3 linked regions of the Homo sapiens genome follow. The protein of the gene in region 1 purifies or fractionates together with the protein of each later gene. This does not show direct contact. Each region holds a gene or a part of one and is shown on either strand. Other genes may lie near its edges. The genes, in order: RABL2A, ALMS1 and MTO1.

Region 1 (10,580 bases):
AAATAAGGTATATCAGGTGAGAATAATAAGAAACTCAACTTTAAAAGACGGCGCTGATTTGCACTGTGGAGAGATTCAAATGCCCTGCTTAGCATTTGAGATTGTGATGGATGAACAAACTAATTAAGAGCCCAAAATGAAAGCTGGGGATAAATATCTGAAAGTGTCTAATATCCCAATTTTTCATCCTAGAATGGGCAGAGTCCTTGACCCCATTCTAGGGAGACTTCCAAAAGAAAAAAGACCTGCATTTCTTCAACAACCCACACTGAGGGACTTTCCTGCACTTTTGTGACCTGTGGCTAACACTCCTCACCTTTCATTCTGTCATCAGTGTTTTGGGGAAGCACCTTTAACTCTCTGTGATTTACAGGTTATTAAGTGGCCCTTACAATTCCCTCCAGAGATGGAAAAGACATGTTGATGGTGCCTGAGCTCACAGCAGCAAGCAGGCGTGTGTGCTCAGCAGCCACGTGGCTCATCTGCTAGGAGCTTGCTAAACACAATGTTCTACAACATTGCTTAACGCAAGGTGAGACGCTCCTGACTCAGAGGGTTTAATTGCTCACCTACTTCTTTTTCTGCCCTCTTGGGCTTCTGAAATGAAAAGAACCCTGGGGTGATACAGTGAGTCAAAGGGGTGCCAGCCGCATCACAGCATAATAGATTCCTAAAAAATCCCTGGCCTAAGATGACAGCCTTGGCTGGATAAGTTTGAATGTGCTGATAGTGGATATGGTAGAATGAAGGTGGTTGAAATGTTCATATTAAAGAACTTCCACCCAGATTGCAAGAAAAGAGAGAGGAATGGAGATGGCAGCACGAGCCCCTACAATAAAAGCAGATGTTTTGAGATCAGTTATATTTCTTCTGACAAAAATTAAAGACAGAAACCAAAGTTTAGCCTGAGGCTACAATTAATTGGGCAATAAGCCAGAGGCACATATGGCATAGACAGATTTAAACATTTCTCCCTTATATTAATACAAACACTAAAATTACAAATACATGGATTCCAAATAAAACAAATATTTTAAAATTTAATGAATAAACACTGGGGTCTACAGTAGTATTTGAAGGAGATCTCACAAACAGGTTTGGTTTTTGAAGGTTAGAACTGGTCGTCTAGAGAATTCATTTCATTCCAGAGAAATAAAGAGAGGAATTTCTTGGGTTCCTTCAGGAATGCATCTAGCTTTGCCTCATCTTTGTTTGAACTATGGATACGGCAGAAGAAAACATGAGGATTTCACAGATTTAAGGTGCAAAAAGTCACTGGGTTCTCTAAGAAGACTGGGATTCTTCTGCTGGAAAAATAAGTTTGTTGAGAAAAAATGAGTTGGAGGAGGCTGTTATTGAAGTGAAGCAGAATTGTTTTTACTAATCTGCTTATTACCCACTCTGTAGTGTGGAAACAAATTATTCATGCACAAGGTCCTCTTACTGTTCCTAGAATGCAGTGGAAAGAGAACAGATTAGTTTTCCTCCCTCAGAACACAACCCCTAGAAACATCCTACCTCAGATGAGATATTGCCTAATTATTTTCAAAAAACAGTAAAACATCATGGATGTAAATGTTTGCTGCAAAATAAATACGTGCTAGAAACAGAAGCATCTGGGTCACAGCTATATTAGAGCTACCTGTGTTCCCCTGTCACTGACATTAAAACAAAAATGTCCAATACGATCCTTCACAGTGTGGGAGAGGGGAAGATGAAGGATGGAAAGGCCAGGCATAAAAGGATTTCAGAATTTCCGTCCATAAGGAAGTGGCTTTGTGCACTGTCTGTTACTGCGTGCAAGGTGAAATTTGAAGAATGAAAACATGCAGTAACAAGGGCTCCTTTGTCCAACTCACCTCTCCAGATACCAAGTTTCAGACATGTTGCATTTTAATTGAAAGGTTGATATAATTTTTTTTAAAGAACACTTGCGGTGTTTGAAGTGACAAAGGCTGCTGTGACAAAAAAGCAGGGAAAGGGAATTTTTTTTTAAAAAAGCAAACAACAACAACAAAAACCCCAGAGAAAAGCAAACAACAAACAAACAAAAAACAGAGGAAGAAGTCAAACACCCTGGGCTGTGACTACTTCCAGGAAGGGGCTACAAGAGGCAGTTGGAAATTCTATTTGCTTTGCAACTGTGGGTTTTCTGGCCTGCTTCCTTTCTAAAGTATATTACTCTGCTTTTGGTTCATGAAGTTATCCATTTCTGTTTTCTGGAACAGCTATGTATTTTCTTTATCTATCATCTATCTATCTGTTTACCATCTATCTTTTCTACCTTTCGCTATCAAGAGCTTGGGTCAAGCAGGATAGAATTCCAGTGTATGTTCACTCTACCATTTAAAACAAGAGCTCTTGTGGGCATTCTCCATCACATCATAAACCTGAGCTTTCTAAAACAGAGTGTGGCAAACTACCATGCATGGACCATGTCTGACACAGTCTGCGTTTGTAAGTAAAGTTGTAATGGGACACAGCCAATACATGTGTTACATAATGTCTCTGGCTACTTTCACGGTATAATGGAAGAGCAGAGTCATTGAGAGAGAGACCATATGGCTTGGAAAACTTGAAATATTTAACACTTAGCCCCTTGCAGAAAATATTTGCTGACTCTTGTTTTAAAAGATCTCTGTTTAGAATGCTACCTATTGCCTTCTGGATAGAATCGCAACTCTTTACCACAATCGACACAGCTTCAGCCCTGCTTCTATATCCAGCCTCATCTGTTTCTGCTCCTCCTCCTTATTTTCCTTCTGGACATGCTGATGGATTGTCAGCTTCCCAGATGTGCGAGAATCTCTCCTCCCTTCCCAACATTCTCACAATCTCCCTCTGCCTCTCAAGAACTTCCTGTCCCATCTCTCATGACAAATCCTTTCTTCATTCTTTAAGATGCAGCCCCTTGGCTCTTTCCTTAAGGATGTCTGTCTGGCTCTATTTTGGGTGACGTGCTCCTTCTGCATCTCCCAGAGCCAGCCGGTGTGTGTCAGCTACAACATTTCTTTGCATCTCTGTGTCGTATATCACCAAATCTGCCTAAGCTTGCATGAGTCACTGCATGACAACTTCAGACTCCACCAGCATTGTCCCCACTAACCACAAGGCTTAGACATTCGTCCAGTATGCTCGGGGTTGTGGGGTGGTAGCAGTAACCAGCTGGTGACCATCATTTCTTACATCAGAATCAAATCTGTAGATCTCTGCCATTCATAAGTATTTGGAGTTTAAAATTAGCATAAAGATTTTCCTTAAAATAAGAACAAATGGCTTGAGTAGGCTTTTGGAACGTAGGATGTTTCCACTGGTTCATGTCTGTGTTCAGTATTCCCACATGAATCTAAACACGACTCTGCTCTTAGTAGCTGTGTGACCCTGGGACAGTCACTCAGTCTCCCTCAGCTAAATTTTGTTGTGTGAGTAATGAGGAGAGAGTTGTGATTTGTATTTAGTGAATAATAACAAACAAAAGGCATTTAGCTTTCTGGAACATGGTATGTAGTAGAACCTCATGAAAATACTAGCTGTTGATAAAACTAGACTGAAAAAAGCTTTCAAAGTCAACAACAGTATGAGGCAGTGAAGGACGTAGAGGAGAAGCTGCTGCTGCAGCCTGTAGCTCCTGGAAGCCCGTTTTGTCCATGATTTAGCAGGAACTCATTACCTTTCCATGAGGACACTGCCCACAGAAACCAAGGCCATTCTTTGAAGACAAACATGTCTTAATAGCCTTTACATTATGTAATAGTGTAATACAAATAATAATTTATTATTAGTAATAATGTGAAATTATTTACAGTACCATAACCCTAACCATAACCCCTAATCCTAACCCTAACCCTAACCCCTAACCCCTAACCCTAACCCCTAACCCCTAACCCCAACCCCTAACCCTAAACCCTAACCCCTAACCCTAACCCCTGACCTTGACCCTAACCCTAACCCCTAACCATGACTCTGACCCTGACCCTAACTCTGACCCTACCCTAACCCTAACCCCTAACCCTCACCCCCCACCCTCACCATCACCCTAACCCAACCCTAACCCAACGACTGTAAGCCGTTTACAGGAAACTCAAGCCAAAACACTACTTGTTTCCAACGTTTTGTTTGCAGAGGATTTACAAATTACACTCCAAAACAAGATAGCCACAGAGCATACTACTTCTCCTCTGAAGTCGCTCTGAGGGCCTCCGCATCAGTCCTAGAATTGGAAGATTGGTGGACAAGAACTGGGATGTTGATGGGGCACTGAATATTTGCTGGACACCAACCTCCTGTTACCTAACCTTACAGAGGGCCCAGATCTCACCTGCCCAAATCAGACATTTTAACACACACACCTCTCAACAGCAGGACTTACACACACAAAACTCTGAGGTAAAGAAAGGATTGTCTCAACTCCTTGGTGTCTCAACGAACTAAAACACTGCCTAGCGCAGGTGCACCATCAACCTTATTCACTAAATACACCTCTGTATATATTCTTCATCTTTGATTGTGGAAATGATATAATCAACATAAAAATGTTTTATAGATTGGACTAAAGACCTTTGAGGTCTCTTCACAGGATCCTATCTGGCGGACCCCCAAATCTGCCAACACAGAGGTCATCCGTAAACATGTGCAGGACAGAGGCCAGACAAAACCATCTCTCTCAGCCTCAAAGTGGCCTGGCAGTCACATGTGGGGTCTGGCCTGTGTGAGGAAGTCAGGCTTTCGGCTCCAGGCACCCTACTGCACCGCAAAACCAAGTTCTGCCTAACAAACAAAAAACAGCCTGCTCACTCTCCCTAATATCCCAGGTGGTAACCTAAGAGCATTATGCTAGACACCCCTCCTCCTCCACCCTCCATGTCCAAGCTATCACCAAGGTCCTAGCAATCTTACCTCCTAAATGTCTCCCAAATCCACTTCTCTCCCTTCAATGTCCAGGCCACCAGCATGACTTCTGCATGTGTGTAGCAGCCTCCGCGCAGGACGTAAAGATGCAAATCTAGTCGTAGGCTCTCTGAAAGGAAAATTTTGGGGACCCAAAATTACTAAGCTAAAGGAAAAGTCAAGCTGGGAACTGCTCAGGGCAAACCTGCCTCCCTTTCTATTCCAAGTCACCTATCTCCTCACTAAGATAGGTGCATATCTGATTCCCTGCTTTGGAGAGGCTAATCAGAAACTCAAAACAATGCAACCTTTGTCTCTCACCTACCTGTGACCTTGGAAGCCCCCTCCCTGCTTCCAGTTGTCCCCACCTTTCTGGATGGAAGCAACGTACTTCTTACATATATTGATTGATGTCTCATGTCTCCCTAAAACCAAGCTGTGCCCTGACCACCTTGGGCACATGTCGTCAAGACCTCCTGAGGCTGTGTCACGGGTGCACGTCTTTCTAAATTACCTGAAACCATCTCAGATAGGGTTCACACATCCCTTTCCCGAACCCTCCCAGGAGCCCCTCGTGGGCGCCCAGGTCCTGCCTGCTGTTGTGGCCCAGGCTCACCTGGAGCAACTCGACTCTTCGTTACAGCCTCGTGAACCTTTCAGTTCCTAAAGCTGTCTAGCCTGTGAAAGGAAAATGAATCTGGGGGCCCCAAAATCACTAAGCTAAAGGGAAAAAAGCTGGGAACTGCTTAGGGCAAACCTGCCTCCCCATCTATTCAAAGTCACCCCTCTGCTCACTGAGATAGGTTAATATGTGATAGCCTCCTTTGCGGAGGCTATTCAGAAACCCGAAAGAATACAACAGTTTGTCTCTCACCTACCTGTGACCTGGAAGCCCCCTCCCTGCTTCGAGTTGTCCCGCCTTTCCCGAGGGAACCAACGTTCATCTTACATATATTGATGTCTCCTGTCTCCCTAAAATGTATAAAAGCAAGCTGTGTCCCGACCACCTTTGGCACATGTCAAGACCTCCTGAGGCTGTGTCACGGGCGTGCGTCCTCAACCTTGGCAAAATAAACTTTCTAAATTGACTGAGACCGTCTCACATATTCGAGGTTCACAAGCCCATGCATGGGGACGTCCCCTGGGGTAGCGCCCCTCCTCCACTGAGCTCACTCGCTTCCTCCTTGTGTGTTTTCTTCAGAAGAAATTTCACAGCTACTTGGTCCACACCTGTCTGCCCCACAGGAACCTCTCTTCTCCACAGGCACATGGGCGGCGTACCTGCTGGGCTGTGTGGAGAGGACCGGGTTCCTCTCCTGATTCCTGCTCAGTTAATAACGAATGTCGACAAGTCGAGAAAATTGCTCAAATTTACCCCATCAAAGAATTAAAAACTGGTGAAAGCTTGACCTGCGCCCCCCACCCCTGACGTGCTCACCGCTCCACTCCCTCTAGGCGGGCGGCACCCGCTGAAGCCTCAGTACCACACCCACAGCCAGGAGCCCCAGTCCCGCACTCGGCCGCATGCGCACTCCCTGCGGCCCTCCCGCCAGGCGCCGCGCTGGGCAGCCAGCGCCCCGGCGGGGTCCTTCAGGCCTTCGGCCGGGCAGCCTCCCTCGGGGTCCTTGCGCGGTTGCGTAGCAGCTGCGAGGACGCGGGGCGAGCCGGAAGTGGAGTGCGCTGCGGTGCGAGCTGGGCCGGCGGGGTGGTTCGAGAGCGCGCAGAGTCCAGACTGGCGGCAGGGCCCGAGGGGCCGACCCGCAGCGTCCCTGGTCTCTCCAGCCCTCACTCGGAACCGCACGTGAGGGCAAATCCGCCCCGGTGGCTGGCTTAGCACGCGGGGACAGCCCCTCCGAGGCCTCCCTAGCGGTGTGGGCGAGAGGGCGTCCGGGTCGGGGGAAGCACGGAAAGGTGGCTTCGCGAGGCTGTTGTGGGGGGCGGGACGGGCAGCCTGGCGATGCCTGGACATGGTTGGTGGCCAAAAACATTTATCGAAAGATAGCATACCCACTTAGATGGCGAGGACATCGACAAGCAAGTCTTCGCCCGTAAGCGGTGGCTCACGCCTATAGTCCAGGGATGCCGAGGAGGGAGGATCGCTTGAGTCCAGGAGTTGGAGGCTGCAGTGAGCCGTGATCGCGCCACTGCACTCCAGCCTGGGCGACAGAGTGAGACCCTATCTCTAAACAAAAGAAAGAACGTCTTCAAGCATGGAGCCATGAAGCTGGATTTGGCTTTCTGTCGCTCTCTCTACAGGGTACAGGTGAAAGGGGGCAGACCCCTCATCATGCTTTCCAGGCATCTGCCACTTCCCAGGAATTGTCTCCCTGGATAAACAAGGCGAAGTCCCTGGCTGTGCAGAAGCAGTAGCTGTGTGGTGGCACAGTCAGGAAAACTCGGGGGCCCTGTTGGTATTTTCTACCCCTGACCCGTGTGCATACTTCTGTCGTAGCTCTCACCACAGTAGACTCTGCTATCATTGTGTCTTCCATCCTCTGAACCCTGTGCAAGGTCTGCTCATGGTGAATGCCCAGTAAGGCTCACCTATTGCTGCTATCTCATCATCATATCATTTCTATGTGCCCCCCTAGCTAAGAGTCTGGACTGTGGTTACATTCTCAGGAATGTCTGCAAAGTCATATTTAGGTGTGAGGAGAGTAAAACAGAGCTAGACATAATGTTGCACACAGCCTTTGGCACTGGATGCCTGGTGAATGTCTTGTGCAAATGGGTAACGTGAGGAGCAGCATTTGGGGTGCGCAGGACTTAACTATTTGTGTATAACATATTACTGATGCCTGTGTGTCATCCTCTGCTACTCCAAGTCTAGTAGCCAATTGCATACCATATCTCAGTCTGGCACTGAGGGAAGCAGTCTGGATGGAGGTACAGCTGGAGATTTGGTTGAGGGGACTTATCTCTGACAACAGCCTCTTGTTGATCTTCCCAGACAGTGACAATACCCTCCCCTCCCTTGGGCTGGACCCCTCTCTACAGCTAGGAGCCAATGGCAGAAGACAAAACCAAACCGAGTGAGTTGGACCAAGGGAAGTATGATGCTGATGACAACGTGAAGATCATCTGCCTGGGAGACAGCGCAGTGGGCAAATCCAAGTATGTTGGGAGATTAGGGAATAAATACCAGCCCCAGAGAGGGTCCAGGTCATTTAAAAAGTCCTCCAGAGGCAGAGGAGCATGGCTTCTTGGGGCTGGTGAAGGAGCAGTCTTGGCTGGAGCCCAGATGTTCATGGGGGAACGAGGGGAATCACATGACCCGTTGTGTGTGTCGGGTGGAGGGGGCAGGTCATAAGGACTGAGGAATTTGAATGTTTCCTCTGAGCCCTGAGAGAACGTGTGGAGCAACTGAGGACATTGTATGTGGTTTGTGGGCTGAGGGATGGCAAGGGCGGGGAGTGGGAATGGAAAGACAAAAGTGACTATGCCACCGTGACAGATTGGGTAAAGGTGGTAAAGATGCTTTCTTGGAGGGACTCTCTGAAATAGAGAAAACTGGGTAGAACTGACGATTGACTATAATCATTGTGAAGACTGGCTTCTTCTTGTAATGAATTTCGGTGCCTACATGCCACCTGGAGAGGTGAAGGGAGGCTCTGCCGTGCTGCCAGCTTGTCTCCATGAGACGTCCTAGTTCTCACGCCTAGGACTGCTGAGGGCACATGTCCATTTCCGCCTTCATAGCATGACGGTACACTTGCCCCTGCCCAGAGAAGTGGTCACGTTTATCTCCCAAGTACTCCAGGCCCACCTTGGTTTCTACCTTCATTTTTATAGTCAAGTCCTTTGACTCAGGTAGCTGTGAATAATTCTCTGGGGGCTTTGCTGGTTTTTAGGCCATCTCCATGAATTTGAATTCTCTGTCTCTCTCTCTCTCTCTCTTCCCCACCACACAATCACACACTGCAGCTCTGGTTTAGAATTTTTTTTTTTTTTTTGAGACGGAGTCTCGCTCTGTCCCCCAGGCTGGAGTGCAGTGACGTGATCTCGGCTCACTGCAAGCTCCGCCTCCCGGGTTCACACCATTCTCCTGCCACAGCCTTGCGAGTAGCTAGGACTACAGGCGCCCGCCACCACACCCAGCTAATTTTATTTTTGTATTTTTAGTAGAGACGGGGCTTCACCTTGTTAGCCAGGATGGTCTTGATCTCCTGACCTCGTGATCCGCCCACCTCAGCCTCCGAAAGTGCTGGGATTATAGGCATGAGCCACCGCGCCCGGCCTCTGGTTTAGTATTTTATAGTTACTTTGACCATCCTCAACAGCACGCCTGTACAGTAAAAGTGAGGGTAGGTGTTGTAGTTTGGGAAGGTTACCCAATAAATAATACCCCCTTTATCCCCACTCAAGTTTAAAACAACAAAGAATAGAAATGGCAGGCAGGTGTAGAGCAAATTGCCACTTTAATAACAAACAGAGCTTTCGGAGAATGTATCTTGGTATACCCAGCTCCCAAGTTCAATGCTAGTCTCTTTATATGCCTCATTTCAAACAGTAACAAAAAATAAGAATCCAAGTAGTTAACTTGACGTCAAAGATTACCATAACATTGGCCTCCACAGACACAACAATTAGAAAACAAGCCAGTCTTCATCCACTAGCAGTATCTCAGGCAAAAGGTTGTCCCAGATACAAAGACCATGATGGAAACAGTGCATCTGAGGGAAGGTGAGTGCATGAGAACACTGTGGTTCAGTTTTGATTGGACTCAAGAACTACTGCCAATTTTCAGTATCTCTAACCTATGAATCTAAACTCGGTTGGGCTAAAACACCCATTAAGAGGTTGACACATCAGGCTGTGGTGAGCTATGATTGTGCCACTGCACTCTAGCCTAGTGACAGAGCAAGACCCTGTCTCAAAAAAAAAAGTTAACACTTGTGTTCATCATATCTGAAGGGCGTCAGTTGTACACGGCCTCATTTCTAGATAGCAATGTTGTGGCAGTGCGGCCTTCTTGCAGAGTTCAGAAATTTACCACGGTAGCAGCCCCAGTCACCAGGCTTTCTTTAAGGTGCCTTTTTTTTTTTTTCTCATGCAGCATGTTCATGCTTCTTGATTCCACTCAGGGCTCTGTTGGTGGGCTCTGATGACAGCTCCCCTACCCCCTGTGAACAGGTGACCTCAGACCTGGGCACTGCCTCCTGTGGAAGGCTTTTCCTTTGCTCCTGCACATGCCACCTTCCTGAGCTGCCATTACAGGTGTGAGCCACTGCACCCGACCAGATTTCTTTTGACCCCAGGTGATCATACTGCTTAATAACAAGACATGGTGTTTTTTTGTTTTTTTGGTTTTTTTTTGAGACAGAGTCTTGCTCTGTCACCCAGGCTGGAGTACAGTGGGGCAATCTCGGCTCACTGCAACCTCCGCCTCCCAGGTTCAAGCAATTCTCATGCCTCAGCCTCCTGAGTAGCTGGGATTACAGGCATGCGCCACCATGCCTAGCTAATTTTTTTGTATTTTTAGCAGAGGTTTTGCCATGTTGGCCAGGTTGGTCTGGAATTCCTAACCTCAAGTGATCTGTCTGCCTTGGCCTCCCAAAGCGCTGGGATTACAGGTGTGAGCCACCGCACCCAGCCAACAAGACGTGGCTTTCTGATTCCATCTTTAAGAGTAGTTAGGTCCAGATGTGTTGTCTTTTTTCTTTGATAGCTGTCTAACTTGGCCTTTAGGGTCT
Region 2 (10,760 bases), about 40 Mb from region 1:
TTCCTTCACTTTTTCCTGTCGTCTGCCTTTTGTCTTATGCTTGCCTTCTCAAACCTCAATTAAGATTTTTTTCTATAACTGACAGGTTTTTTCATCTATCATCTTTGTTTATCCAGAAACAGAGAGAAAAGAAGAAGAAAGACAAGGAGGGGAGGAAGAGAAGCAAAAGGAGGAGGAGGAGAAGAAGGTGGCAGCAATAACAATGGATGTAGGAGGGGGAAAGGAGGGCATGCTGCCCTTGCTCCTTCTTTCATTGCCTTTTGGCCCCTAGATGAAGAAAGGGCTGCACCACGAGAGAGGCAATTCTAGTCTGAGCAGTCTCTTGGGCCTGTGGGCAAGTTAGATGTGGGGCAGCAGGAATCTGCTCCATTTTGAGTTGTCTGGCGTTTTTATGTACTCATTTGGTGCAGTCCTGCTATGGGGATTGATAGCCAGGAACCTGCACCATGAGTCCCAGGTATAGGATCCTCTGTTCAAAGTATATGGGTAGGTCTCATGTTCCATATGGGCCTCCACCTATCTTTTCCCATTCTCAGGACCCTCAGCTCCTTTTGGCAGCAGCATCTTAATACCTGCTGCTACTAGAGGGAAACATCATTAGGAGCACTTGCTTGGCCATAGTAGGTTGGTACCAGCAGGCAACATTCCTGTTTCCTAGTACAGTGCCTGGAACCTAGAAAGTACTCAGTAAACCTTTGATCAGGAGGTACTGTGCTTCAGGACAGAAACCAGGATTCTGGTAACTAGGAATACATTCCACTCATGGGAAGTTTAAAACTGGCAAGCTGTGTGTAGGTATGTGCCTGTAGTCCCAACTACTCAAGAGGCTGAGTGGGAGGATTGCTTGAGCCTAAGAGTTTGAGTCCAGCCTGGGCAATAGTAAGACCTTATGCCTAAAAAAAGATAAAAAATTAAAACCAGGGTAGAACTAGAACTTACATAATTGCTTCCTTTAGTTTAATGTGTCAATGTTCTCTAGCAACCCAGTGTTGGTTTCACTATTCATTGCAACAAGGGAGAACGCACACCATGGGAGATCATGAGAGATCTCCATATTGGGATGTTACTAGGAGTTATAGGATTTGCCTTGTGTTAGGTGATTTTAGGGGGCAAGTTTTAAAGGCCAGTGCTTTTCTGTGTATTGGATGCTGTCAAGATGAGGGAGTAATTCTATGATTGGGCATCTTAATAAATTTTATTCAGAGGAAAAGAATACAGTGATGGGCTGGGCACAGTGGCTCAAGCCTGTAACCCCAGCACTTTGGGAGGCCAAGGCGGGTGGACTGCTTGAGCCCAGGAGTTCAGGACCAGCCTGGGAACCATGGCGAAACTCCATCTCTACCAAAAAAAAAAAAATTAGCTGAGCACGGTGGCACACACCTGTTGTTCCAGCTACTCAGGAGGCTGAGGTGAGAGGATCACTGGAGCTGGTGAAGTCGAGGCTGCAGTAAGCCATGATCGTGCCACTGCACTCCAGCCTAGGTGACAGCAAAAAAAAAAAAAAAAACAAACCACAGTGATGGTAGAGCTATAATTGATTTAAAAAAACAGCCATCAAATTAACTGGAAAAGGAGGGTGTTTGATGTGCACAGTAACGTTGTTTTTGTCTGTGCTTAGGCAAGGTTATGAAATGGTCTTGTCATGTCTCGTTTCTTCAGTCACAGAAAGACCATGTGTGATGTCGGTGTTCTGTGAGATTATTTATGCTCAACAGGAGAATATTGAGGGATGATGGTGAATGCCAGGCCAGCATGTGACAACCCTGAGGCTTAGTTACCTGTGTCAGACCAGTTCCCAGGCACCCTAGATTTATTTAGTGAGTCCTCCAGTTGGTCAAGGGTAGACAAAGTCAGGCCACAGGACCATTAATCTATGATATTCAGATTTTCACTATTGCTAAATTTATGCTGATCTGGAGGATGCAGTCTGTAGTTGGGTTAATTCCGCCTTCTGTTGTAGGATTTGTTGAATCATATGATATGACAATGGCTGTGCAGAAACTAGGGCTGTGGATAGGATACGTTGACCAAGTGCAAAAGAAGCAATTACCAGAAACAAAATGATTATCCATCTTTGTAAAAAGTCTTGAAGACAGGGACCCAGATTATAAAGTCCTGGCAATGAAAACATGCCCCAGAATCCAGCTGAGTCTGTTTTTAGGGAGCCAGGAGGATTTTCTCTTTTCAGTTTACTCATGTTCTACTGACTCTGTAGTATGTTCTACTGGCCCAGTAGTATGTGAGTATGGTGACAAGTGTTGCTAAATACAAACTCCTCCTTGGCCAGCTAAGAAGAAATCAAGGGTTATATAATTATCCATGAAAACTCTGGCTAAGGAATTCAAATTTAAGTGGTTTTCTGAGCTGCTATAGCAGAAGTTTTGCTATCTATGGGGTCTGCTAAGGTCAAATACCTCTCTTGGATCTGATCTCTTTCTGTTGTATTATCTTTGTTGTAGGAATTTCATTCACAGAGTACACATGAAAAATGAGTCAGTTATCCCTCCTGGGAGTTCTCCCAAGTAGTCTGTGATTGTGTGCTTGCTTCATTTTGTTGGTTTCTGGGTGTTCTTTTCAAAGAAACACAGTCTACTGGAGGGGTGGTAATTTTAAGCACTGGAGGGTCTCTAACAATTAGCTTCAATATAAAGGGTAAGTTAGTGGGCAAGCCAGATGTTCCCATAAATAAGTAGTACCCTAGGGGAGTACAGACTGCATTGGGAGGATAAGGGCTATTTAGCACATCAGGGACAAGCCAACTTTCTTTCCCTCAGGATAAGCAGATTTCTTGGATGAAGTTAAACAGGTTTCTCCAAAGCAGGCTGGAATGTTTTGGAAGAGAATGACCTGAGTAGTGTATAAAGAATAGCCCCAATATTAGTTTCTATTCCTGAAGGGCTAGGTTTTTCTCATAGGATTGTAATGACTTCAGGGAAACATTCTGTTGAAGTGTAGGTCAAGGTCCAATTTTTAGAAGACTGAGGTTTGGGATGAACTTTGTGGGGAATGCTTAAGTACCAGAAGTGACCTACAGAAGAAAATCTACTTGATGAAGTCTATGAAAGCACAGTTATTAAATTTTGTCAACAATTCCTTAAAAGCAGTAGCTACGGTTTGAGAAAAACACTCCAGAAAGTGTCTCTTTTCTTTTCTTTTTTTCCTTCCCTTTCCTTTCTCTTTCCCTTTCCCCTTTCCCCTCCTTTCCTTTCCTTTCTCTTTCTCTCTTCTCCCTTTCTCTCTTTCTTTTTTAGATTGGGTTTCACTTTGTTGCCCATTGGCACGATCACAGCTCACTGCAGTCTTGGACTCCTGAGCTTCAAGGACCCTCTTGCCTCAGCCTCCTGAGTAGCTGGGACTCCAGATACGTGCCACCATGCCCAGCTAATTTTTTATTGTTTTTAGAGATGGGGGTCTTGCTACATTGCCTACGTTAGTTAGACTCCTGGTCTCAAGTGATCTTCCCACCTTGGCTTTCTAAAGTGCTGGAATTACAGGTATGACCCACTGCACCTGGCCAAATAATGTTTACTTTAAGTAGTAGAACATAGGGAGTCAAAAGTAACAGGATGAAGATAAGGGTTATCTCCCCGAGAAATCAATTTGTTAGTTAATCAAGGGTGTCAAAATGCAATAAGCAAGATTAGTGGTAGGGTAAGAGATGCCAAGGAATCAGAAATTAATCTTGTCCTGTTGTCTTGGGTATAAACTGCCCATTTCTGCAGTAAGCAGCTTCTGGGGAAGTCCCAGGAATCTTCAGTTTGAGGTCTTCCAATAGTATGGGATGTCCGGTAGCCAGGAGAAAATGATGCATGTCTTTTTAGTTGTGTAATATGAATCCAGGGATCAATGTCTTCTAGTTTTACTCCTGGGTCAGTTGTTGATAGTACCTGACATTTTTTTTTCTTGCATTGAGGCTCAAGGGAAATTGTTTTCTAATGCTTTTTCAGAAGACCAAATCTCTAACTTCAGAAGCTGCTTAGGTGGGTGCTTTGAGAATGCAGCTTCCATCTGTTGTTGATAAAGCAGGAGTTAATCTTAGAAGTCTCCTGCAGCAATTAGTGATAACAGCTTATATTAGTAGCATCTAGTATTGGAAGTAATTCACAAATACATGAGGAAGCCTGTTATTAACTCAGAAGGAGATAACTTATGGGCCTTAGAATGGACTGACCTTATTGCCATCAAGGCAAATAGAAGTACTTTGGGCTTTGGAAGTTAGATGGAAGTTAGAGAACTTTGAAAGCTATTTTTTAGAATTCTATTAGTTCTCTTTATCTTTCCTGAAATTTGTGGATGCAAAAAGATAGCGGAGTTTCTAAAAAGGTAAAGCTTTACAGTTATTTAATATCAGTGAAATGTGTGTCCTCTTACTGGAGATAAACATTGAGATTTCACATTCAGGAATACAAAATTAATAAATTCTTTTCTACTATTACAGTAATAGGTCTCCGGCAAGGAGAACCCCTAAACCCCTTAAGAATAAATAACCCTAATGTACTCATAGTCCATTTAGAGGTGTTCAACAGAACTCCAAGACTGGGCTCCAGTTCATGTTCTACCCTTAAAGTTTTGCCAGGATTGGGTCATTGACAGGTAGGCAGGACATACATCCTTGGCAATAACCCTAAAATTGCCCCACCAACATTGGTTCAGCATCATTATCAATGTATCTCTACTATTGTGGGTAATACCATGAAGACTTTTTGCTGGACTCCACTTTAATTATGGCTATTTCCTTTGGTAACAGTGAAGCATCTCAAGATTATAATTATTATTTAAAATTTTAATTTAAAAATTTTCCCCATAGGTTATTGGGGGTACAGGTGGTGTCTGGTTACATGGCATCTTAAGATACTTTAATTTGCCATTCATTTCGTAGAGGTTCCTGAAGCGGTCAGGAAATCTTTGTTTTTAAAGCACTCCAAAGTCATTGACGAACCACCAAAACATATGTACTATCAGTATAAATATTTGCTCTGTTATCCTTTAACAGCTGGTTGGTCTAGGCCAGGGCAATTCCTACACTAACAGAGGACCTGGGATGGCATACTGAGTCAGCCACTTACTAGGTAAGAAACTTTGGGCAAATTAATTTTTTTAGCCTCAGATTCTTCATACATGAAATAGTAATACTTGTCTCACAGAACCGTGAGCATCTAATGAGTTATTGTACAATAACCAACCTATCACTAAGTCCTTCACATTGATTATTTCCTTTAATTATCACACCCATCCTATGCGATGGCCTATTATCATCGTTTTATAAACACAAAGTCACACCACTTTAAGTGGTGATGCCAGGATTCAAACTCCGATCTTTCTGATGCCAGTGCCCAGTTCTTAATCCCTCTAACAACCCGTGACACTTTTCCACGGTTAGGTTCAAGCGCCCACCATACAGCTTGACACTTTAGGAGATACTCAACCTTTAAAACTTTATAATTTGCATGTGTGATTATAACGGGTACGTCCTAGAGTTTGATCTCTTCTCTGTGCAGGGGCGAAACTCGACCCCAGCCGAGAACTACACTGTCCTTGCGCGGGGCCCTCTGCGCCCCGGAAGGCGCCCAGTCCCGGTTTATTGTGAGCTTACAGTACAGTTCGCAAGGTCCCGGCCGGTGACGGCGGCGAGGCGGCAACGTCGCCTGTAGCAAACCTCCGCCCTAAGGCGTTCCCGCCGGGCCTCGCGCGGCGTCCCTAGCAACGCGCGCGCGGTCTTCCGGCCCCGCCCAGGCGGGCGGCACTGCGCCTAAGCTGGGCCACAACCGCCAGTCAGGGCTCTCCCCTTCCCCTCCCTCCCCCCCTCCTCCTCCTCCTCTGCCGCCCAGAGCGAGACACCAACATGGAGCCCGAGGATCTGCCATGGCCGGGCGAGCTGGAGGAGGAGGAGGAGGAGGAGGAGGAGGAGGAGGAGGAAGAGGAGGAGGCTGCAGCGGCGGCGGCGGCGAACGTGGACGACGTAGTGGTCGTGGAGGAGGTGGAGGAAGAGGCGGGGCGGGAGTTGGACTCCGACTCTCACTACGGGCCCCAGCATCTGGAAAGTATAGACGACGAGGAGGACGAGGAGGCCAAGGCCTGGCTGCAGGCGCACCCCGGCAGGATTTTGCCTCCGCTGTCGCCCCCGCAGCACCGCTACTCGGAGGGCGAGCGGACCTCCCTGGAGAAGGTGAGGCGGGCCGGGGAGGGGTGTGGAGCCGCGGCGAGTTGGGGGTGGAGGCTGGGCCCCGAGCGCTCCGCCCGCCCGCAGGTCACGCCGCCTGACGGAGAAAACGCGCGCAGCTGAGGCTAGTAGGCGGCCCAGACTCCAGCCCAGGTGCCGGCCGGCTGCTCCGCGTCTCCCAGGCTTTGTGGCAAAGACTTCTCGTTTCCTCCCCCTCGGTGGGTCCTGGGCCTTTTGAACTCCCGTAGACGTTCAGGGGAGCCTGCATTCCCCGTGAGAAACGCTGAGAGAGGACCACGGGTGTGTCGAGCCTTGAAGGAGGGAAAAGGCGGTGTAGGACCGGAGCGAGTGGTTGCCTGGGGAGCATCTTGTTGGGGAGACAGTGAACAGATGAGCTTGACTGAATTGCAGGACTCCCCTGAGGGAGTAATGTGGATAATGTACACCGCGCGATCACTTAGTCTGGAGAGGCTCCCCGCGGGTTTTCCTCCCCTGGACCATCATTTGTAGCAATAAAGGGGTTCCCCAGCCGATAGGAGGGGCTTGGAATGCAGGAGGCTTGTGATGCGGCTCCAAACAGTCTGCAAAACTACAAAGCACAGATAATACACAATGGAGAAAGCCGATTTCATGGTAGACCCCCGAAGATCATTTTGAAAATAACTCTCCATTTAATTTGCTGCCCTTACCCCCCTTTTTTTAACTTACTGCTTTTCGAGGAGCAAGACCTGCCCTGCTCAGTACAGTAGCCACTGGCCACGTGTGGCTTTTTACATCTTAAAGAGAAAACTATTATAGTTTTGAGTAAGAGTTAAAAATAAATTAAATGAAAAATTCCATGCGTCTGTTCTTACCGGTTTTCAAGTGCTCAGCAGCCACACTAGGCTAGTGGCTACCATGTTGGACAGAGCAGATAATGGAACAGTTCCATCATCACAGACAGTGAAGGTGTAGAGTTTTGTCACTAATGAGCAGTAGTTGTTGTTTTGTCTGGTGAATATTCCAGGGGGTACTTAATTCATTGAACATGTATTATTAGAATTCACCATGTGCCACACATTGTGCTGGGTGCTAAGGAAAGCTTGGTGAACCCAAACATTTTTGGTCTCTGCCTTCCTTGTGTTCATGGTCTAGACAGGGAGGCAGACAGATTTCAGATGATCACATAAAGTGAAACTAATATATGTGCTAATATTCTATGAAAGCATAAAGTAAGATAATCTGGCCTTGTCAGTGAAGTTGGGAAAGCCTTCTTGAGGAGGTTATGATAGAGCTGATATCTGAAGACAGTTTAAGGTTAATCAGGCAAAGGGGAGGGAAAGAGCCGTCTAGCTGAGGGAAAAACACATGAAAAGGTACTGTTGATGAGAGAGAGCATGGCATTTTCCAGGACCCAGAAGCCAACGTGGTTTGAGCACAGACTGCAAGGCTTTGTGTGCTATGCCAAGGATTTAGGGGCTTTATCTCTGGAGCTTTGGGGAGTTGAAGAAAATATTTGAAACGAGGGGATGTATGATAAGTTAGGTGTTTCAGAAAGGTCAGGTGTATAGCAGAGTGTGGAACAGCTGTGATAGCAAGGTGGGATGGGGAGCAGTAGCCATAGGTCAAGGGCATAAATTAGGAGACCATTGCAGCATTGCCCGGCAAAAGATGATGAAAGTTTGGAATAGGGAAGTGTTGGTGGATACAGGGAAAAGTGGACTGATTTGAGAGATATTTAAGAGGCAAAATCATCATACTTAATAACGGATGGGATGTGAAAGGTGAAGTAGCCAGGTGTTAGGTTATTGTTTGAATGGTTGTGCCAATATTAAGATATGGCCAGATTTATGGTGGAGGTGGTGGCTGTGAGTGGGTGGTGGAATTGGTTGGGTGAGTCTTAAGATTATGAGTTTGGTTTTGAAGATTGAAGGAGAAGGCTGGGCTAGAGATTTCAAGTTGTAAGTCATTTACATAGAGACCATAATTAAAGCCACACTTGTTGACTAGGTCTTCTAACTTTTATTTTGTCCTGTGACTTCTTGCTTGAATAACTATTAATATTCAAACTTTATCTTGAAGCCTAGAGGAGGAGTTTTTTAAACAAAATTTTAATTTAATTTTAGATTTGGGGGTACATATGCACGTAATTAACATGGATATATTGCATAATGGTGAGGTTTGGGCTTCTAGTGAACCTCTCACCCAAATAATATACCTTTGTACGTGATAGTGTAACATTGTACTTGATAGGTAATTTTTCAGCCCTTCTCTCCTCCTTCTGGAGCCCCCAGTGTCTGTTTATTTCCATCTTTATGTCTGTGGGTACTTATTGTACCCATTTATCTTTATGCCTCTGTGTACCCATTGTACCCACTTGTCTTACCAGTGAGAGCATGTGGTATTTGATTTTCTGTTTCTGAATTGTTTCACTTGATAAATAGCCTCCAGGCTCCATCCATGTTGCTGCAAAGGACAGGATTTCATTCTGTTTATAGCTGCATAATATTCCACAATGTATATTAATACATACTACATTTTCTTTACCCATTCAGTTGTTGATGGACACTTAGGTTGATTTCATGACTTTGCTATTGTGAACGGTGCTGTGATAAACATATGAGCACAGATTTTTTTCTTTTTTTTTAATGGCGTCTAGCTGGTGTAGAACACCTGGGCTCAAGTGATACTCCGCCTTGGCTTCCCAAAGTGCTGGGATTACAGGTGTGAGCCAGTGTGCCTGGCTCAGATGTCTTTTTGATGAAATGATTTAATTTCCTTTGGAGAGATACCCAGTAGTAGGATTGCTGGGTCAAATGGTAGTTCTGTTTTGAGTTCTTCAAGAAATCTCCATACTGCTTTCCATAGGAGTTGAACAATTTACATTCCCAACAACAGTGTATACGTGTTCCCTTTTCTTCTCATCCTTGCCAACATCTGTTTTTTGACTTTTTAATAATAGCCATTCTGACTGGTGTGAGATGGTATCTCATTGTGATTTTAATTTGCATTTCTCTGATGCTTAGTGATGTTGAGCATTTTTTCATGTTTTTTGGCCGCTCGTATGTCTTCTTTTGAGAAGTGTCTGTTCAGTCTTTTGCCCGCTTTTTAGTGGGGTTATTTGTTTTTTCTTCCTGTTGATTTGTTTGAGTTCCTTATAGATGCTGGATATTAGTCCTTTGTCAGATGCATAGTTTGCAGATATTTTCTCCCATCCTGTAGGTTGTCTGTTTACTCTGTTGGTAGTTTATTTTGCTGTGCAGGAGCTCTTCTAGTTTAATTAAGTTCCATTTGTCTGTTTTTATTTTTGTTGCATTTGCTTTTGAGGTCTTAATCATAAACTTTTTTCCTAAGTATTCTTTAGGATTATTATAATTTCGGGCCTTACATTTAAATCTTTAATCTATCTTGAGTTAATCTTTGCATATGGTGAGAGATAGGGACCCAGAGGAGGAATTTTTAAGCTAACCCTCTTTTACTACAGCCAATGTGAGAAAATTATTTTCCTGTTTAATAATGAACTATCTTTTTTTTCCCCCGCCGAGATGAAGTCTTGCTCTGTTGCCCAGGCTGGAGTGCAGTGTCACGATCTTGGTTCACTGCAACCTCTGCCTCCTGGGTTCAAGCAATTCTCCTGCCTCAGCCTCCCGAGTAGCTGGGATTACAGGTATCCACCACCACGCCTGGCTAATTTTTGTAGTTTTAGTAGAGATGGGGTTTCACCATGTTGGCCAGGCTGGTCTTGAACTCCTGACCTGTGATCTGCCTGCCTCAGCCTCCCAAAGTGTTGGGATTAGAGGCATGAGCCACCGCGCCCGGCCTCTAATCGTGAACTATCTATGGGTAATAGAAAATCTTACTTCTGAGAGCCCAGAGTATTTTTTCCTCCCCACAGTTTTTTCTTTCCCCTGAGAAAAATTAGATATTTTCTTATTTACCTGAGAGAATATATGATAATATATAGAATATATAGATGATTTTCTGTATTAAAGGTAGATTTACAATGATACAAGGAGTGTTCAGATAATTTTTCCTTTAGTTCACTGGCATATTGAAACTTACTGGCATAGGTTGGAAAGTGTTTAAGGAAAAAATGCTTAGTATGTTTCTTGCTAGAAATTTATGAACTATGAAATTCTTAGATGTGTTGTATAACATCTAATGCTGCGTATTTAGAGGATGAGATCAAATAATAGGAAACATTAATTTCATCCAGTTTACTCTCAAGTTAAATGACAAAATTGTGTTATTCAATTTACTCTCATATCTCACTAGATAATAAGGGAGTTATAGTGGTGTTATATAAGGCAGTGATTAAGTTTGTAGTCCTGTTACTAAGGCTGAGTTAAACTATGATACTGTTTAAATTTGAAGCAAAATATGACCAGTCTTATAACTAAGTCTTTTTAAGAGGGAAGTGAGTGATTCAGAGCCTTATGTTGTTTTTATGCTGGTCCTACAGACCATTCAGGCACTTCTTGTAATTCCTTAACCTGAATTTCTGAGTTGTGCTGGGGAAGATAATTCAGTTCTCTGGGTTGGCATCACTAGAAATTCTTGGTCTCCAACTTTTAATTGGGTCATCAACAGTGCTTGGAAATCTTTTTTTTTTTTCTTTTTA
Region 3 (10,272 bases), on another chromosome or scaffold:
CTGAGGAGGGTGGATTACCTAAGGTAAGGAGTTTGAAACCAGCCCGGCCAACATGGCAAAACACCGTCTCTATTAAAAATACAAAAATTAGCCAGTGTGGCGGCAGGAGCCTGTAATCCCAGCTACTCAGGAGGCTGAGGCAGGAGAATTGCTTGAACCTGGGAGGCGGAGGTTGCAGTAAGCCGAGATTGCGCCATTGCACTCCAGCCTGGGCAACAATGGCGAAACTCCGTCTCAAAAAAAGAAAAAAAAAAAAGTCGGGTGCAGTGGCTCACATCTGTAATCCCAGCACCAGCACTTTGGGAGGTTGAGGCAGGCGGATCACCTAAGGTCAGGAGTTCAAAACCAGCCTGGCCAACATGGTGAAACCCCGTCTCTACAAAACTATAAAAATTAGCCAGGCATGATGGCGGGTGCTTGCAATCCCAGCTACTAGGGAGGCTGAGGTGGGAGAATCGCTTGAACCCAGGATGCGGAAGTTGCAGTGCACCAAGATTTCACCATTGCGCTCCAGCAGGGCGACAGACTGAGACTGTCTCAAAAAAACAAAAAAAAGAAATTTACGATTTATGGGGAAATACCCAATTAGCCAAGTTAGCTAATCCCTTTTAGAGATTACTTCTTTAGGCTGAGTGCAGTGGCTGACGCCTATAATCCCAGCACTTTGAGAGGCTGAAATGGGTGGATCACGAGGTCAGGAGTTCGAGACCAGCCTGGCCAATATGGTGAAACACTGTCTCTATTAAAAATATAAAAATTAGCCGGGTGTGGTGGCGCGTGCCTGTATACTCGGGAGGCTGAGGCAGAAGAACTGCTTGAACCCAGGAGGCAGACGTTGCAGTGAGCTGAGATCGTGCCACTGCTCTCCAGTCTGGGTGACAGAGCAAGTCTCCACCACAAAAAAAAAAAAGGATAACTTCTTTGGCTGGGTTCGGTGGTTTACACCTGCAATCCCAGCACTTTGGGAGGCCAAGGGGGGTGGATCCTTTGAGCCCAGGAGTTCGAGACCAGCCTGGGCAACATAGTGAAACCCCATTTCTCAAAAAAATTTTAAAAAGCCAGGCACAATGGCTCATGCCTATGGTCTCAGCTACTCAAGGGGGTTGAGGTGGGAGGATCACTTGAGCCCAGGAGGTCAAGGCTGTAGTGACCCATAATTGTACCACTGCACTCCAGCCTGGGTGACAAGGTGAGACCTTATCTCAAAAAAAAAAAAAAAAAATCATTTCTTTGCACTATAAGCAATAGTGCTATAAAGTGAACTGCTGCCAAAAAAAAAAAAAAAAAGTTACAGTACTTCCTGCTGTGAATAGCCAATACCAGCTGTAAGCCAGGTTTTCGTAAAGTATCTTACCTTAATCCATACTGTCTCATTGGTAAAGCTGAATGGTATGGATGGATTGTCCGGTATATGCTTGTTTAGAATACTGAAATTAATGGACTCTTTGGCAATTCGGGGTGGAGTCCCAGTCTTCAACCTTCCCACCACAAACCCTAACTTCTCCAGTGTCTGAGCCAATCCTATAGAAGGCTGATCCCCTAAACGTCCTGCTGGATGCGTCTCCAATCCAATTACAATCATGCCTCTCAGAAATGTCCCAGTAGTCAGAATCACACTCTCTGCATATACTGTGCTTCCATCCACTAAATAACAAGAAAAAAGAATAAAGTCATTATCTATGTATCTATGTATTTATGTATCTATGTATCTATCTATCTATCTATCTATCTGAGATGAAGTCTCACTCTATCGCCAGGCTGGAGGGCAGTGGTGCAATGTCCGCTCACTGCAACCTCCGCCTCCCGGGTTCAAGCAATTCTCCTGCCTCAGCCTCCCGAGTAGCTGAGATTACAGGCATGCGCCACCACGCTCAGCTAGTTTTATATTTTTAGTAGAGATGGGGTTTCTCCATGTTGGTCAGGCTGGTCTCGAATTCCCGACCTCAGGTGATCCACCCACCTCTGCCTCCCAAAGCGCTGGGATTACTTACAGGCGTGAGCCACCGCGCCCGGCCTAAAGTCATTTTTTAAATTGTTACCATGGATCAAAATGGAATGTGACTATTTTACATTACAACTACAGAAAAACTATCAGTCTTTAAAAACTTGAGAATCTTTTTTAATATTTTTGTTTTTTCAAGACTTATCGACATATAACAGACATATAAAAAACTGTATATATTTAGAGTATGCAACATGGTGTTTTGATACAAGTATACCTTCTGTGATGATACCCATAATCAAGCTAATTAATATAACCATCACCTCACATAGTTACACGTTTTGTGTGGTGAGAACACTTATGATCTACTCCCTTAGCAAATTTCAAGTATATCATACATTATTATTAACTGCAGTTACCATACTGCTCACTAGATTGCTAGAACTTATTCAACTTACAGCTGAAAATGTATAACCTTTGAGCAGTATCTTCCCATTTCCCCTACCCCAGACAAAGAATTTTAAATGAGTAAGAAGGCTAATATGTTATCAATCTCAATCTAAGCAATCTAGGAGAGAGAATACAATGTGTTATCACCAATTCACATGTACCTAAAATCATATCAGCACTAAAAAGTTAGTCTCAATTAATTTAAAAAATTAATTAATTTTAGACTTCAGGATAAATATGGCATACAACCTCTCATTTCTTCTCCCTTCTAAAACTCAAAGAAAATTAAATAGGGGAATAAAAAAGGTATAAAACCAAAAGGACAAGTAATGAAAAAGAACCAGTCAGAAGATGAGAAATTTCAATGTATTTTTGAAAGATAGAAAGTGTTTGGAAGAATGGTAACTCATCTAGCAGAGGGGAGATAGCTATAACTTAAGTATTAATATCTGAAGAGAAGATATATCAATGAGAATGAACTAATTTGCCCTGCAAAGGCTCAGAAATTAGAGAACTGAGAATAAGAACTGAGGAGGAATGTAGAAATGAAACTTGGAACAGAAAATGAAAGAAACAGCTGAAATTTACACATTAAGGTTTTGTCCTCAGATAGCTCTACCTTACAGTAAAATGGAGGTTTATTCTTCAGGTAATGGGGACTTTTTGTTTAATGGGTACAGAATTTTAATTTGGGATGATGAAAAAGTTCAAGAGACCGTTGGTGGTGATGGGTGCACAACACTGTCAATGTACTTAATAGCACTGAATTGTACACTTAAAAATGGTTAAAATGGTACATTTTATGGTTTGTATATTTTACCACAAAAAAATTGTTATTGTTGGGCCTATAAAATATGGACAGGATCACAAAATAGCATTTAAAGATATTAAATTAAATCGGCCAGGCTCAGTGGCTCATGACTATAATATGAACACTTTGAGAGACTGGGGCAGGAAGATCACTGGAGCCCTGGGGTTCAAGACCAGTCCTGGCAACATAGTGAGACCCCCATCTCTACAAAAAAAAATAATAAATTAGCCAGGGGTGGTGACACATGCCTGTGGTCCCAGCTACACAGGAGGCTGAGGCAGGAAGATCACTTGGGTCCAGGTGGTCGAGGCTACAGCGAGCTGTGATCATGCCACTGCACTCCAGCCTAAGAAAGAGGGAGAGAACTTGTCTCAAAAATAAAAAAATAAACAATTTAAGGGTATAAACATAAATACTAATAAAAACAATATAACCATTAAATCTGGAAAATAAAGAAAGTCGGGGGAGAAAAGGAAATGAAAGTAAAACTAATTTAGTAATTGTTACTTGAGGGAAGTCAGTGAGCATATTATATTATATATAAAATCATAGCTTTTAAGGTAACCATCGGAACAAACCCACAAACTTAAAAAAAAAAAGCATGGCCTCCAAAAGCAAAGCAAACACAGATTAAGTTTTTTTTTTAAAAAAAGGTACAGAGGAACAGTGTGTATAATATGCTACGATTTTGTGAAAACAACAAAAAATACATATACATATGCATGAAGACATGTACATATGCCTAGGTAGAAAGACCACACAACAGATTAACAAAGCAAATGCTCCTGAGAAAGAAAACTGGCTGGTTGAGGGGACAAAGTGAAGGAGACAGACTATCTTTTTTTTTTCTATTGAGACAGACTCTTGCTCTCTCACCCAGGCTGGAGTGCAGTAGCAAGATCTCAGCTCACTGCAACCTCCATCTCCCAGGTTCAAGTGATTCTCCTGCCTTAGCCTCCTGAGTAGCTGGGACTACAGGCGTGAGCCATCATGCCTGGCTAATTTTTGTATTTTTAGTAGAGACGAGTTTCGCCATGTTGGCCAGACTGGTCTCAAACTCCCGACCTCAGGTGATCCACCTGCCTCGGCCTTCCAAAGTGCTGGGATTATAGGTGTGAGCCATAATCACATAATGCCCATAATGCCCAGCTAAGACAGACTATCTTTTCACTCTATATGCTTTTTGTAGCCTTTAAGTTGTTGGCCCTAAGTATGTATTTCCCAATCAAGAAAATTAATAAATCTATAATAAAAATGAAAATGGGAATTAAGATATGTATTTTAAAAGATGACACTCCTGGGCCACGCGCGGTGGCTCATGCCTGTAATCCCAGCACTTTGGGAGGCCGAGGTGGGCGGACCACAAGGTCAGGAGATCGAGAACATCCTGGCTAACACAGTGAAACCCCATCTCTACTAAAAATACAAAAAAGTAGCCGGGCATGGTGGCACGTGCCTGTAGTCCCAGCTACTCGAGAGGCTGAGGCAGGAGAATCGCTTGAACCTGGGGGGCAGAGGTTGCAGTAAGCCGAGATCACGCCATTGCACTCCAGCCTGGGCTACACAGTGAGACTCTGTCTCAAAAATAAATAAAAAGAAAAAATAAAAATAAATAAATAAATAAAATAAAATAAAAGATGACACTCCCTGGCACAGCCTCTCTTACCATTTTGTTCCCAGAACGCTAGTGGGTAGCCATATTACTCTCTTAGGTGGAAAACTGATTCTTCTGAGAACTAACAGACATTGATATTTGAGAATTCACCAAACCAAAAGGCTGGTTCAAATCTTTTCTTTTTTTTTGAGACGGAGTTTTGCTCGTTACCAGGCTGGAGTGCAGTGGCACTATCACGGCTTACCACAACCCGCACCTCCAGGGTTCAAGTGGTTCTCCTGCCTCAGCCTCCCGAGTGGCTAGGATTACAGGCATGTGCCACCACACCTGGGTAATTTTGTATTTTTAGTAGAGACGGGGTTTCTCCATGTTGGTCAGGCTGGTCTTCAACTCCCAACCTCAGGTGATCCACCCACCTCGGCCTCCTAAAGTGCTGGGATTACAGGCGTGAGCCACCGTGTCCAGCAGTTCAAGTCTTAATCACCACCAGAATCAGCCAGGCAATAAAATTAACTGTGTACACACAAATCTTCCAGTTAAGTGTTTTAGCGCCTTATTTATTTATTTAGAGATGGAGTCTCACTCTTGTCGCCCAGGCTGGAGTGCAGTGGCACGATCTCGGCTCACTGCAACCTCCGCCTCCTGGGTTCAAGCGATTCTCTTGCCTCAGCCTCCTGAGTAGCTGGGATTACAGGTGCATGCCACCACGCCCAGCTAATTTTTTTATTTTTAGTAGAGACAGGTTCACCATGTTGGCCAGGCTAGTCTCAAACTCCTGACCTCAGTGATCCGCCCGCCTCAGCCTCCCAAAGTGCTGGGATTACAGGCGTGAGCCACCATGCCCGACCTAGTGCCTCATTTAAAAATGTAACAGGCTGGGCATGGCAGCTCATGCCTGTAATCCCAACACTTTGGGTGGTTGAGGTGGGAGGATCACTTGAGCCTAGGAGTTCAAGACCAGTCTAGGCAACACAGGGAAGCAACATAGGGAGATCCCACGTCTCCAAAAAAATTGAAAATAAGCTGGGTGTGGTAGTGTACACCTATAGTCCCAGCTACTTGGGAGGTTGAGGTGGAAGGATCACCTCTGGGAGGTGGAGGCTACAGTGAGCGATTATAGTGCCACTGCACTCCATCCTGGGTGACAGAGTAAGACCCTGTCTCCAAAACCAAAAACGCAAAGAAGTCAACAGAAAACCAAAGTTCGCTAGATACTTAAAGGAAGTTGTGTACATGAAAGAGAGCAGCCCAAACACATAAACAGAACTAAAAAATCTGGAGAAGGCCAGGTGTGGTGGCTCACCCCTATAATACCAGCACTTTGGGAGGTGGAGGTAGGCGGATCACTTGAGGTCAGGAGTTCAAGACCAGCCTGGCCAACATGGTAAAACCCTGTCTCCACTAAAAACACAAAAATTAGCTGGGCGTGGTTGCTGCTGTCTGTAATCCCAGCTACTCGTGAGGCTGAGGCAGGAGAATTGCTTGAACCTGGGAGATGGAGGTTGCAGTGAGCCAAGATCGTACCACTGCACTCTAGCCTGGGTGACAGAGTGAGACTCTGTCTCAAAATAAATAAATAAAATAAAGCAATTATTAACTCAAGGCAAAACCAAGCATAAGAAAGGGACAAACATAATACACTTCCATGCAGTAAACAATACTTAGTCAATAATGTAAATACTATCAACCAAAAATTACGGTATAATTATATCAGAAGGAGAGAGGGAAGGAAAATTGGACATTAAAGAGAATTACCATAATAATAAGTTAATAGGCTGGGCACAGTGCTCATGCCTGTAATCCCAGCATTTTCAGACGCTGAGGTGGGCGGATCGCTTGAGGTCAGGAGTTCAAGACCAGCCTGACCAACATGGTGAAACCCTGTCTCTACTAAAAATACAAAAAATTAGCCGGGCATGGTGGCAGTCGCCTGTAACCCCAGCTACTTGGGAGGCTGAGGCAGGAGAATTGCTTGAACCTGGGAGGGGAACGTTGCAGTGAGCCAAGATGGTACCACTGCACTCCAGCCTAGGCAACAGAGCCAGACTCTGTCTCAAAAAATGTTAATAGATGGCTGGGTGCGGTGGCTCACAGCTGTAATCCCAGCACTCTGGGAGGGCGAGGCGGGTGGATCACAAGGTCAGGAGAACAAGACCATCCTGGCCAACGTGGTGAAACCCCATCTCTACTAAAAATACAAAAATTAGCTGGGCATGGTGGTACGTGCCTGTAGTCCCAGCTACTCAGGAGGCTGAGGCAGGAGAATCGCTTGAACCCGGGAGGCTCAGGTTGTGGTGAGCCGATATCGCACCACTGCATTCCAGCCTGGCACAGAGTGAGACTCCGTCTCAAAAACAAAAACAAAAACAAACAAACAAAAAAAGTTAATAGATAATGTCTAGAACTGTAAATTAGGAAGTAAAAAGATAAGCCTGCTATTCAGAAATATGGAAGTATATACAATAAGTGACAACTAAAAAAGCTGAAGTGTCTGTCTCCAGGGAAGGAGATGGTTGTTTTCCCACATAAATTTCTAAATTTCTTTTATATTTATTTATTTATTTATTTATTTATTTTGAGACAGAGTTTCGCTCTTGTTGCCCAGGCTGGAGAGCAATGGTGTGATCTCGGCTCACCACAACCTCCGCCTCCTGGGTTCAAGTGATTCTCTGGCCTCAGCCTCCTGAGTAGCTGGGATTTCAAGCATGCGCCACCACACCTGGCTAATTTTGTATTTTTAGTAGAGATGTGTTTCTCCATGTTGTTCAGGCTGGTCTTGAACTCCCAACCTCAGGTGATCTGCCTGCCTTGGCCTCCCAAAGTGTTGGGATTACAGGTGTGAGCCACTACACCCAAACTTATTTTTTATTTTTTTTTGACACAGGGTCTCACTCTGTTGCCCAGGCTGGAGTGCAGTGGCATAATCACAGCTCACTGAAGTCTCAACCTCCTGGGCTCAAGCAATCCTCCCACTTCAGCTTATTGAGTAGCTGAAACTACAGGCACCTGCTACCACACCGGCTAATTTTTGTATTTTTTTGTAGACATGAGGTTTTGCCATCTTGCCGAGGCTGGTCTCAAACTCTGGGGCTCAAGCAATCCACCTACCTCGGCCTCCCAAAGTGCTAGGATTACGGGCATGAGCCACCATGCCCAGACCCTTTTAATATTTTAAGAAAAAATTATATGCATGAGTTATTTTGATAAAAAACATACATAACTCTTTTACATAAAAATATATATAAGCTGTTAAAATATGAATTTTTTAAAAAATTAAAGTCAGAACCAGAAAAAACAGAAATTACAATAGAAAGATGGGGAGAGAGGGAGACATAAATATGCAGATTACAAAGTTCTACACTAAGATGGAACATGGTACTGATGAGCCTAGAATTTGACTGAGCATCATAAATGCCAAGATGAAAAGAGAAACATATTTATTTATATAGTTTTCCTCATCCAGGTAGAGAAAATGCAACAAGTTCCTTGAATAAGCAACATATCTCCACACTTTGCTCTAAAATAAATTTCTCACATGGAATTTGATATGCTGTTATCATACACCATCTATAACCAATACGTACCCAAAACAACCCCACTGACACGGCATTTCCCAGTGTGTTCAGGCTCTGGTTCTGTAAGAATAAGATCTTCTACAGCTCCCTCCTGAACAGTAAGCAGTGGTGTATTCAAGATTTCTTTCTGTCAAAAGAAAATGCCAGTTGAAACATGGTAATTAAACAATCACTATAATCTTTCCTGTGCTCATGCCCTATTCTTACCTGCATGTTCTGTTTATAGAGTTTCCTATCAATCTGAGCTCTCAGACCCCACACAGCTGGTCCCTTACGCCGGTTTAATACTTTATAATGTACACCAGACTGGTCACAGATGCGAGAACACAGGCCATCCAAGGCATCTACTTCCCTCATTAAATGTCCCTTTCCGATGCCACCAAAGGAAGGATTACATGACATCTGACCTAAAGATAATAGACATAAACAAAATAAATATATGAGCACCTTGCACATAGTGACTACTTAATAAGGAAACATTTATACAGGTGACTATAATCATCTCATATGATAAAAAATAGAAAACGTGAAAGATATACTACAAAGAAAATCCCAAAGACCCAATGGGATGCAAAAGTGTCCAGGGCAACCTGGATGACAAACCACTTCCTGAACTTCCTTTTGTTTTTTTTAAGATGGAGTCTCACTCTGTCACCCAGGCTGGAGTGCAGTGGTACAATCTCGGCTCACTGCAACCTCTGCCTCCTGGGTTCAAGCGATTCTCCTGCCTCAGCATCCCGAGTAGCCGGGATTACAGGTGTCCGGCACCACGCCTGGCTAATTTTTGTATTTTTGGTAGACGGGTTTCACCATGTCGACCAGGCTGGTCTCAAACTCCTGACCTCAGGTGATCTGCCCACCTCGGCCTCCCAGAGTGCTGGGATTACAGCCGTGAGCCACCGCGCCCGGCCTGAACTTTCTTTTGAATCTCTTCCTTGATGCATATTTTTACTGTTTCACTAGGTTGCCTTTTCCTTTCAAACATGTAATCCTTACCCCATGAAACCTTTCTAAACCAAGTATACTTGGTTTTTAAATTTGTTCTTTTTTGATACAGCACCAGAGGAATCTACCAAATCAAGCACACTTGTAAGAAGTCCCTAGTCCTTCAACATAAATAAGGACAAAAATAAATAAATAAATAAAAAACAGGGCCGGGTGTGGTGGCTCACGCCTGTAATCCTAGCACTTTGGGAGGCCAAAGAGGGTGGATTGCTGGAGCTCAGAAGTTTGAGACCACCCTGGGCGACACGGTGAAACCCCGTCTCTACTAAAATACAAAAAAATAGCCAGGCATGGCAGTTTGCACCTGTAATCCCAGCTACTTGGGAGGCTGAGGCAAAAGAATCGCTTGACCCTGGGAGGCTGAGGTTGCAGTGAGCCGAGATGGCACCATCGCACTCCACCCTGGGTGACAACAGTGACTCCATCTCAAAAAAAAAAAGAAAAGAAAAAAGAAAAAACAAAGAAGCCCCTTGGCACTGGTTCAGTTACAACCAATTATGTCTTCCATAAATGCCATCTGATATCTCCTTTTTGCACTTACTTTGCAGAATTAAATATAATTAAATTACAAATTTCTTGTGAGTGAAGACCATATTTTATACCTTTCCCTTACATTTACCCAGTCTTACCTGGAGGTCTAAACCCATGTGGTTACCTCAAAAGTTTTTGTGGGAGGTGGAGGGATGGGCAAGTTATGTCAATATCCACATATCCACTGCCACCACATCAAGAATCAAGACCTCCAAAAGTTTTTTTTTTTTTTTTTTTTTTTTTTGAGACAGAGTTTCGCTCTTGTTGCCCAGGCTGGAGTGCAATGGCACGATCTCAGCTCACTGCAACCTCCACCTCCCGAGTTCAAGTGATTCTCCTGCCT

The links.
Region 2: the proteins of RABL2A (region 1) and ALMS1 purify together in Homo sapiens (affinity purification with mass spectrometry, with the first as the bait; 2 studies listed by BioGRID). This does not show direct contact.
Region 3: the proteins of RABL2A (region 1) and MTO1 purify together in Homo sapiens (affinity purification with mass spectrometry, with the first as the bait; 2 studies listed by BioGRID). This does not show direct contact.

What each region holds. Positions count from the first base shown.
Region 1 is NC_000002.12:113,620,713-113,631,292, forward strand, and holds the start of RABL2A (rab-like protein 2A), read left to right. Parts: upstream 1-6,553; 5' UTR 6,554-6,688; exon of another isoform or gene 6,689-6,756; intron 6,757-6,902; exon of another isoform or gene 6,903-7,841; 5' UTR 7,842-7,894; coding exon 7,895-8,001; intron 8,002-10,580. UniProt on the Homo sapiens protein: Plays an essential role in male fertility, sperm intra-flagellar transport, and tail assembly.
Region 2 is NC_000002.12:73,380,027-73,390,786, forward strand, and holds the start of ALMS1 (centrosome-associated protein ALMS1), read left to right. Parts: upstream 1-5,809; 5' UTR 5,810-5,842; coding exon 5,843-6,166; intron 6,167-10,760. UniProt on the Homo sapiens protein: Involved in PCM1-dependent intracellular transport. Required, directly or indirectly, for the localization of NCAPD2 to the proximal ends of centrioles.
Region 3 is NC_000006.12:73,464,737-73,475,008, reverse strand, and holds part of MTO1 (5-taurinomethyluridine-[tRNA] synthase subunit MTO1, mitochondrial), read right to left. Parts: intron 8,801-10,272; coding exon 8,601-8,800; intron 8,521-8,600; coding exon 8,403-8,520; intron 1,645-8,402; coding exon 1,355-1,644; intron 1-1,354. UniProt on the Homo sapiens protein: Component of the GTPBP3-MTO1 complex that catalyzes the 5-taurinomethyluridine (taum(5)U) modification at the 34th wobble position (U34) of mitochondrial tRNAs (mt-tRNAs), which plays a role in mt-tRNA decoding and mitochondrial translation.